3 separate regions of the Homo sapiens genome follow, and all the other regions are reported to be linked to region 1. The links are microRNA targets in miRTarBase. Many come from high-throughput screens and were not tested one by one. Region 1 holds a microRNA gene; each other region holds the end of a gene's coding sequence.
What was found. The annotated mature microRNA hsa-miR-4652-3p reads GUUCUGUUAACCCAUCCCCUCA and lies in region 1 at 1,500-1,521, opposite strand. An mRNA with a match to its seed (bases 2 to 7 or 8) in the 3' UTR can be bound and repressed. Matches are read on the target gene's strand: a 7mer-m8 pairs with bases 2 to 8, a 7mer-A1 pairs with bases 2 to 7 and ends in A, and an 8mer does both.

Region 1 (3,262 bases):
GACTCAGATTGTGCAGTTTGACATCTGATGATTATAATGTCTGCTGACCTCAAACTGTATTGTATGAATTACATAATAACCATGCATACAAAAGAAAGCAGAAATCATGAGGAATATTATAGTATAAAATCATTAATGTTATTTTCTTAATTTCTGCAGAAGTATCTATGAACCTTAACTCTGCTTATAATATTTTTGCCATAAAGTAGAATTTCTTTTCATTCCATACAATACCTCAATCTTTTCCTTTATAGCTTTCTTGTTATCACTCATAGGAAGTTATTTTGCTGAAAAACTATGTAACATTCATGAATAATTTATCTTAATTTTTTTCAGTCTCTAATATTTAATTCAGCTATAATTTTGTTATAAGGTATGTAACTTAGTTATCAAAAATATTTTTCCCTGGCAAATAATTCCTCAGTTGTCTTTTGAAATGGCAACGCCAAAATTGCTATCACCATTTTACAGATGAGTGACAGTTACTCACAGGGCTAAAGTGATAGACAGTGGTGTGGGCACCAGCTCAAACCTGCTCTCAAGAGGCAATTGCAGGTAGCATTTCTGAACTCCATATTCAACAAATTGGATATGATGGAAATACACCATGAAAATCAGCAAATACTACAAGCTTTCAACTTTCCTCCCTCCCTTCCTCCCTCTCTCCATCTTTCCCTCACTCCCTTCCTCTCTCTCCCTCTCTCTCTATTCCCCCCTCCCTTCCTCCCTCCCTCCTTCCCTTCTTTTCCTTCCTTCCATCCTTCCTTCCTCCTTTTCTTTCTCTTTCTTTCTCTCTCTCCCCATTTCTCCCCATTTCTTCCTTCTTTTTCTTTCTCTTTCTTTTGGTTCCCTCCCTCCCTTTCTTTGTTCCTTCCTTCTTTCATTCCTCTCTCTCCTCATTCCCTTCCTCCCTTATTCCCTGTTCTCCTCCTCTCCTTCCCTCCTTTTCCTAGGTTTAAGGGCTTTGCAAGTTCTCTTTAGTGCACCTGGGTTGACCTGATTTTGTTGTTCTCTACTATGTGGTTTGGGATGTGGTTTCAAAACTCATACCACCGCAACTTATTCATTCATAAAGATCTCTATTTCATTTGAGTAATCATTATGACTTATTGTAGCACTGGAGGACTGAGGAGTGCTTTGGGGCCAGAGGTTGGGTAATACTTAAGAGGAGGTGTTGTCAGCTGTTTGTTAGAAGAGAGACTTGCTGTCTGAAACTCAGTGAGTTGTTGCCTACAGGTCAGTAGCAAGGCCAGGAACATGACCTTGGATTTAAGATTTTCTGTCTTTTCAATGGAAACAATATGCTGACCATTTCTTTCACTTCGTAATCCTTCATCACATAGTCTCCCTTCAGAAGGTCTTCTCAACCACCACTGACATTGATTGCAAAGATTTTTAAAATTCTCATCACTTTTTCTCTCTGGTCTGACACTAGGGGACTGCTTGTTTGGCCTTACTCAGCCTAGTTGAGCTTATATTGAGGTTTATACTCTATTAGATGAGGGGATGGGTTAACAGAACAAAATAGTTCTGGTTAGTTAGTTCTATTAACCAGTCCCCTCGTCCAATAGAGTCAAACGATTCTGAATCACTGTTGGCCATTATCACTCTCATCACTACTCCAGTCTGACCAACTTTTGCATAGTTATATATATAGTATGTAACTTAGTTATCTAAAGTATTATATATATAATATTATATATATGCATATATAGATAGATAGATAGAGAGAGAGAGAGAGAGTCTTTCTCAGTTGTCCAGGAGTACAGTGGTGTGATCATGGCTCACTGAGGCTTGGATGTCCAGGCTCAAGCGATCCTCCCACCTCAGCCTCCTTCCTGGGTAGCTGGGATTACAGATGTGTGCCATCACACCTAGCTAATTTTTAGTAAAGACAGTCTATGTTGCCCAGGTTGGTCATCAAGTTCTGAGCTCAAGGGATATTCCCACCTTGATCTCCCAAATGCTATGATTACAACAGGCCTGAGCCACTGCACCTGGCCGCAAAGCAATCTGTAATTGTTACAGCTTACCCTGTGAGGTGTAAAGTTGAATTGGAGGTGGGGAAGAAGCATCTCTGACAATACCCCACAGCTTTGTGTAATCCCACAGCTTCTTGCACAAGAGCTTGCATATAGCTGGAGTTCAAGAAATATTTGTGGATTGGATGGATGTACAAATGAATGACAGTAAAGAGGCTACATCTGACAAGGGAGGAGGAAGCTGGGCAATGAGGATCCAGGGGACACCAGTAGGGAGGTACGGATAAATCTTTGAGATGGGAGAAAGGAGAGGCTGAAAGCGATAAGGATATAGGAAGCCCGATGCAGGCAGAGGACAGAATCCAAAGAGTTGCACACAATGCAGGTGTGTAAATGTGGACATTTAACAGGGATGGCATATTTAAAGTGGTATATTTTGAGATTTTCACTTGTTTTCTTTTCACTACCAACAAAGCTGAGTGTAATGATTAATTCTTGAAGATGTCTAAGCCAGGAAAGGGAAAAGAAAGTATTCATAACTGTCAAACAATGAATAATGGACATTTATTTGACAGTTCTTGAACATTAAAATTGAGCTAAGTTCTACATTATAATATGAAGTAGTTATAATAGGCATATAATATGTTTCCAAACATTATATGCCATTACTATGATGTGAAAATAATACCAAAGATCAGTACTTTCAACACCTGAATCACTTTGTGGTTGCAGTGCGGCAATTCTATGTACTGATTGTCTCTGAGTTTTTAACAGTGTAAGATGGTATAAAAGTCATCCATGATATCTGTAGTATTATCCAACTGTGTGTCTCACCAGCTGTGTAACTTCAGGTTAGTCCTCACTACCTCTCTGGGTTTAAATTTCCTAATCTTAAAATGAGGTCCAAGCTGGAAAATCCATCAAGTTCCTTTCTGGTCTAGCATTCATTGATTCTAGGATGTAAGATTATGCCGCGTAAATATGGACAAGACTTTCTTTTTCATTCCCCTCTTTCCATGAAGACAGGCTCCTTCTCTCTTCATAAACCATGGACTTATCCTAGGTCAAGGCTTCCTGGTCCACAGGAGACCCCTGGCGGCCACCCTGGCGAATTCTCTTGATAGATGTTACCTCCCGCAGTTCCGAAATCTTTAGAGGGTTTTTGATGCCCTAGAAAGCTTCCTATCTTTGAACTCTTAACACCTACAATTGGGTTGATACTACTTTGAGTAATCTTTTTTCACATATGCACAAACCTTTCCTTTTCTCTTACAACCCTT
Region 2 (3,262 bases), not on the chromosome of region 1:
TAGTCTACTAGTGGTGATATATCCAGTGGCAGTCAATCCATGCCTTTATATGTTGATGGCAAAGTCATAATGGAGGACACCAGTGTTAACTAGCTTGCCAGATGTCACAGCAGGCAAGACGAGATTGAAACCATCACCTGTCTGACCCAGACCGCTGGTGGGATGGTAAGGTTTCCCGACAAAGATTTACCAACGGGAAAATTCATTGAGAACACCAGTTTCCCAAAATAGAGTACTGGCCTGGTTATGGCAAAGTGATGGATGGAGCACCAAAGCTTGTGTTCCTTTGTTTCTTCCAGGAGAGAAACCTTACAAGTGTACCTGGGAAGGCTGCACCTGGAAGTTCGCTCGTTCAGATGAACTGACGAGGCATTACCGCAAACATACGGGAGTGAAGCCATTCAAGTGCGCGGACTGTGATCGCAGCTTTTCCCGGTCAGATCATTTGGCCCTGCACCGCCGGAGGCATATGTTGGTGTGAGGAATGCTACCTGTCCAGCTGAGCGTAAGAGCTGGATCTCTTAGCGGCACCCAATTCAGCAGGGCTGAATCCCCTTCACAGTGTTAACACAAAAGGGCATCACCATCCCACGATGTCTGAAACCAGAGCAGGAAAAAGAAGGCACACTTCTTTTGGTCTGAAGGTAACCCCCATCATGACTAGACGAGAACCGTCTTTACCCGGGCCTGGGAGCTCAGTGACATAAATGCTGAAGAGACAGGCATTGTTTTCCGTGCTGTGTCCTCTGCCATTTAAAGATGTTTGTAGCTTGTACATTTTCTGAGCTGTCAGACATTTTGTTATTGATACCTTAAAGGTCACCTACCACAAATTGATGGCTAGAGCAAGACCTTTTAAATTTGGATGAATCTCCCATCATCCCATCCCTTAACCCCTTTTTACAGAAATTTTAGTTACAATCTGAGTAAGCTAGAACACACATCCAATCTGTTACCAGCAAGCAGCATGAAAGTAGAAACGAAGAAGCAGATGGAGAGGTCCCATTACCTGCAAAGAAAGGGCACTCAGGCAGCCCTTTGCAATCGCGATGGCAGCCACTAGATATCACTCTCAACTTGTCATTCTGCCATGCCCTGAAGAAAACCAACATTGAATCTTTCATTTGTTTGTCGTTGATTGTTTTTGTTTTGTTTCGATTCTGTTTTGTTCATCTGTTCGAGCAGAGGGGCAGTTGAAGTCTCGTCCTGGTCTCTGCCCTGGCATGGACTGGCACAGAGGTGTTCTGTAGTTGAATAGGAAGAGCCTGTCTAAAAAACTACTGCCCCACTTCAAATTGCAGTGTTCTGTCACCTAGGCATCATCTCTTCCTGCCCCTAGTATTTGATTACAAGGAACCAGGGGAAAAAAACTTTCTTAGACACACTGGCACCAAGGTAAGAGGTGGGGCTGCCCAGGCAAAGTCAGTGAACATGAAAACTCAGACAAAGCAGAGATGGAAATAATGCGCCTCTTGAGGAGAAAAGCAATAATGAATAAAAGGACTTTCCTACAATAACTTCACTGAGGACTCACGTTACCAATTTTCATACTTACTAAAGGGATTGTAAAAAACACCCCAGCATTTTAGGTGTCTTGGTTCCATTTACAGCACTGAGGTAATCTTTCTGCTGTTTGTTGTCCTGCTTGGTTGAGTACCACAATTAAAGATTATGCTCCCCTTTTCTTGTTTGAAAACAGTTATTTGGTGACTAGAAAGGCAAGGGAGGCATAGCCGGGAATTAACTCTTCGGTTAATGGGTCAGTTCTCCTTGGAACTGAATCAGTGGAAAGAGAATGCTTCCCATAGAAAGCCCGACATGGTGCTAGTTTCCTCTCTTGGAGAGCCAAGGATAAGTGACTCTCCAATAGGTTCTTCTATACCGATTTCATTTTCTAAACTGTATCAGGACCCAGGTGTCCTGCATTGGCATCTGCAGGGATATTGAACCCACTCATCCTGTGCAGAGGATGAGAGGAAGGTGTTAGTTCCATCAGCCCCATAAAATTATGAACCTTTTTGCAACTAGGAACATATACAGTAAACAAGCAATACATCACCAACGAGCATTCTTTCAGAAAAATTACCATATTTTTGTCCCCACCACAAGCTGGGTTTTTTTCCAGCTTTCTGTGGCTGAGGGGCTGGTGAGATTTTTTGTTGTTATTGTTGTTGTTGCTAGAATTTTTTATAGCTTAGATATAAAAGGTCTCCAACAAAGACCTTTGCAATATATTTTAATTACAAACACTTGATTTTGGGAATTGCACATATTAACCTCACAATATTACTAGCTCATTTTTAAATGTCTGGACATTCTGAAATAATTTCCGGTTACAGAATTACCCTTTTTAGGATCATCTTCTAATTCAGATAATCTTATTCTGATGAAGCGAGAACTATGAACGTTGAAACAAGGACAATTTGTGTTGGATGGTATTCAAAAGGAATTTTTTAAAACATTAAGCAACAGTGTAATGATTTTCAGGTCAAATTATGGCTTCACAAATATGTGCTCTATATTGTCTGCCAGGTCTCAAAAATTCATCAAGCAATTTCCCTCCAACAAGGGCTGCAGTTCTAGTGATAAATAGCATCTTTAGCTGCACAGTCTACTACTCATCAACCAGTGGGTTTTTTTTAGCACCTGGAAAGTTTTTTTGTACTATATGCAACTCCTACTTCACATTGCCTGTGACCATTCAGAATAGAAAAAGGTCTGTTGATGCATGCCAGTGCTGGTTACTAGTCAGTGACAGAGAACACAGAGAGGGACAAACACAGCCATGAACCCCCTGGCACTAGTACCAGCACCTAGTTGGCAAGTAGTGGGTGCATCTCTCAAGTGAAGTGTAGATTTGTATTTAGTCCTGCTTGCTCTCATAAAAAGAGCCAGTTCTTTTCTCTGCTGAAAGATGTCTTGAGAGTATTACAGGTAGACTTGGTTTTTAGAATTCATAAAACTGACAGGCAGGGGAATCTTCCTGAGTGACAGCTTGGTTTAAATTTAGCACAGAACTAGATGAGTTGCACTTTTCTAATAACATAGGATGGATTTGGGGAAGGGAACATTTTCCCTCATCCTCTGAAAGTGGAAACCAGACTGAGATGGTAAGTTAACTGATAAAACCTGTCAGCATTCCATCATTTTCCCCTTTTGACGTATCAGTACTTCTAAGAAGGGATCTAAGCACAATTAAGTGAATTGAGTCCCTGGTCTAGCCTCAGGAACTGAAACTTCTTTGGGGCTTGTCTTGAGACGT
Region 3 (3,262 bases), not on the chromosome of region 1:
CGCCCAGCTCCCAAAGCCAATTTTCAATTATTTGTGAGCCATAGATTCAGTGACTACATCAATATCTCTTGCCAGGGATTGGCCTAACAGCTCAGAGAACAGATTGTTAGGATATATGGGCAAGCCTTCTAAGTTCAAGAGGCAAGAGCAGAAAATGGAATGCTATAGGGATTTAGCTCCATCTTAAGCCATTCTGGCCCTTTCTGCTCTACTTTACCAGCTATAGAGTTAGGAAGGCTTCCAGTAGGCCACAGCAAGAGGAAAAACCTTTATTCTGTGGGGCTCATTTATCCAGGATTTAACTTACCTGTGTCATGTTACCGATCTATTAACACAAGTAATTTAGAGTTGGTTATATTATTTCAAGAAATTGAGCACAAAGCCAGGATGTACAAGGAGGAATTCAAACAATCAATATTGGATTATATAATGAAAAGATGCCCTTACAATGTTTATGATCTAGAATGTAATCATAATAAAGGGGGGAAAATACCTTATGAGTATCACAATTGTATCAGAGACTATTAAACAGTACAATGATACAGAGAATTTATTCAATTCATACAAGTAATTTACCAGATCTAAACAGTGAATAGACTGACCTAAGGGGAAAAAAATCCTTACATTGATAGCAAAATATCTTCTAGCCCCCATAAATAATCTGCAATCATTTGCTAGGAAAAAAACTTCATAACCATATGGGTCATGCAGACATTTTTATTTATTTATTTATTTTGAGACAGAGTCTCGCTCTGTCGCCCTGATTGGAGTGCAGTGGCACGATCTCAGCTTACTGCAACCTCCGTCTCCCAGGTTCAAGCAATTTCCTGCCTCAGCTTCCCCAGTAGCTGGGATTATAGGCACACACCACCATGCCTGGCTAATTTTTGCATTTTTAGTAGAGATAAGGTTTCACCATGTTGGTCAGGCTGGTCTCGAACTCCTGACCTCAGGTGATTCGCCTGCCTCGGCCTCCCAAAGTGCTGGGATTACAGGCGTGAGCCACCGTGCCCAGCCCATGCAGACATTTTTAAGTGCTATTGGTATTCACTTTATTTCAAACTGAGCAAAACAATACAACCTTTTACTTTTTTATACATTTTAAAATTTCTCTCATATTAACATTCCTTCCTACCCCAATCCATCCCATCACCAAACAGGAATGAGATAAGGAGTGAAAAAAAGATGTATGTTTCTCATTTTCCTTCTTTTCCCTTGAAGTAAACCAGTAATTTATTAAAATATTTTATAGGTCAGAGGATAACAAAAGACTCAATGTAGTAAATAAGTAAATAGGCATTCAAATATCAGTAACCTAACAGGCCCTAATACAGCTTTAAGATTTTCTTCTTTTTTTTTTTTTGAGAGGGAGTCTCGCTCTATTGCTTAGGCTGGAATGCAGTGGTGCGATCTTGGTTCACTGCAACCTCCACCTCCCGGGTTCAAGCAATTCTCCTGCTTTGGCCTCCTGAGTAGCTGGGATTACAGGCACATGCACCAACCCTGGCTAATTTTTCTGTATTTTTAGTAGAGACAGGGTTTCACCATGTTGGCCAGGCTGGTCTCGAACTCCTGACCTCAAGTGATCCACCCACCTCAGCCTCCCAAAGTGCTGGGATTACAGGTGTGAGCCACTGCACTGGCCTAAGATTTTCATTTTAACAGGGAACTGTTAGAACAGAAAAGAAGCTTCCCAAGAGGCACTCATTTTAAAAATAAATTATAGCTTAAATTATTACTATGTGGATTATATCAGCAAAGGCAGAAAGAATTAATGTTTTCCTCCTTTCATGAACCTTGTAAGGCTAGTGTTGAGTGGCTTACAAATGTCATATAATGGACTGTAAATCATCTGCCATATTGATCAATCATGTTTATTTAAGGTTTTCTTAACATTAGAGATTTTTAATGGGAGTATAAAATTAGTAAACAACCATTTCATTTTTTCTCTCTTCCTATTCTAGCCACATAAGCCAGTTTAATCCATGACACAGATTTCAGCTGTAATTTGCAAAACAATCCAAGAGCTACCACAGTCCCCAAAACTACAGAAAACTGCCATCCACAAATAAACTACCAAGGTAAATGTAAATACAGCGTGGTTCTAATTTTCTTTCACACAATCCCAGACAACCCCAAATAACTTTATAAATACCTTATGAAAAAAAGCAATTTAAAAACCTATCAAATCTATTTAAAATATATAAATGCAGACCTCTCAAATTTCCTTCAATCAGGCCAGAAATTATCACAAAAATTATAATCACAGTTACAAACAGAATGAGTGGAATGTTTGTAAGTTTAGGACAACCAAAAAAGCCCCATGTAACTTTTTAAAAATATAATCATTCACTCAAATATACTGTAAATAGGAATGGCAGTAACACAGGAAGCAAAAATAAACTTGCAAGTGAAATTTCTAGAAGCTCATGAAAACAATACCATCCCATATTGCAGATACAAAAGGAAAAACAGTTCTAATGGGGTTAAGAGTACTCTGGTCATCTTCGTTCGTTTGGTCGTGCAAGGTGTTAACTATTTTCACTTCCCATATCACAAAGTTAGTCCACAGGAGGAGCTGGTGGATCTTGTCCCTGGCATTAGAAAGAAATAAATTATTTAATTGACTTTTTAAAAATTCAAAAAAATTTAAAATTTATTACTTTTTTAAAAATTGACTTATTAAATCCCAGTGCAACCAATCTAACACATAGAGAAACAACTGAGCAGCAATGCCCCCAACCATCCCATCCCAAATATATGCTTATTTGGACTTTTCATATGTTTTTACATGAGGGAACACTAGATTAAATAACACTGTGATTTTCCACCATTTGTCTCATTTTTCCCTGTAGAATGGAAGAGAGAGGGAATTTGTACAACAGTGATGTTATCACTCCTGCCAACCCCAGGAGTGATCTTCAAACCTATGAAAATATCTTCATCCCTCTTGCTAAAGTCGATTGGCTAAGCAAAGTACTGTATATTTAAAATGAAGCTAGGGACTTTTGTTTCTCAATACTGAATGTCTACGAGGATGCATGTGGCTGCAGTTGCTTCTGGTAGTCATCCTATAACCCTAAGGGGAGCCCATCTTGGAATGAAGTTGTTAGTATGAGGAAAGAAACTAGGTCTTTGATGACACTGTTGAAACTTTCTTAACACTGACCCTACCTCTGAATTTTTTTGACGTGTAAATCAATGAAGCCACTTGTTTTAAACCACTTGGAATTGACTTTTGTTAACTTGCAATAGAAAGCAA

Region 2: miRTarBase lists KLF12 as a target of hsa-miR-4652-3p. Seed matches in the 3' UTR shown: 7mer-A1 at 903-909.
Region 3: miRTarBase lists SMIM14 as a target of hsa-miR-4652-3p. Seed matches in the 3' UTR shown: 7mer-A1 at 1,514-1,520.

Annotation. Positions count from the first base shown.
Region 1 is chr7:93,715,236-93,718,497 of GRCh38, reverse strand. It overlaps MIR4652 (microRNA 4652), which reads right to left and starts at 1,570; the gene lies at 1,493-1,570.
Region 2 is chr13:73,692,709-73,695,970 of GRCh38, reverse strand. KLF12 (KLF transcription factor 12) reads left to right here. Exons shown (of 8, transcript NM_001400136.1): 8 at 300-3,262. The coding sequence ends at 481. Among named protein-coding and RNA genes, the nearest start is that of LINC00393, 32 kb to the right of the region's middle.
Region 3 is chr4:39,549,565-39,552,826 of GRCh38, forward strand. It overlaps SMIM14 (small integral membrane protein 14), which reads right to left. Exons shown (of 5, transcript NM_174921.3): 5 at 1-2,594. The coding sequence ends at 2,562. The region is part of intron 2 of UGDH-AS1 (UGDH antisense RNA 1); the gene reads left to right. Among named protein-coding and RNA genes, the nearest start is that of UGDH-AS1, 23 kb to the left of the region's middle.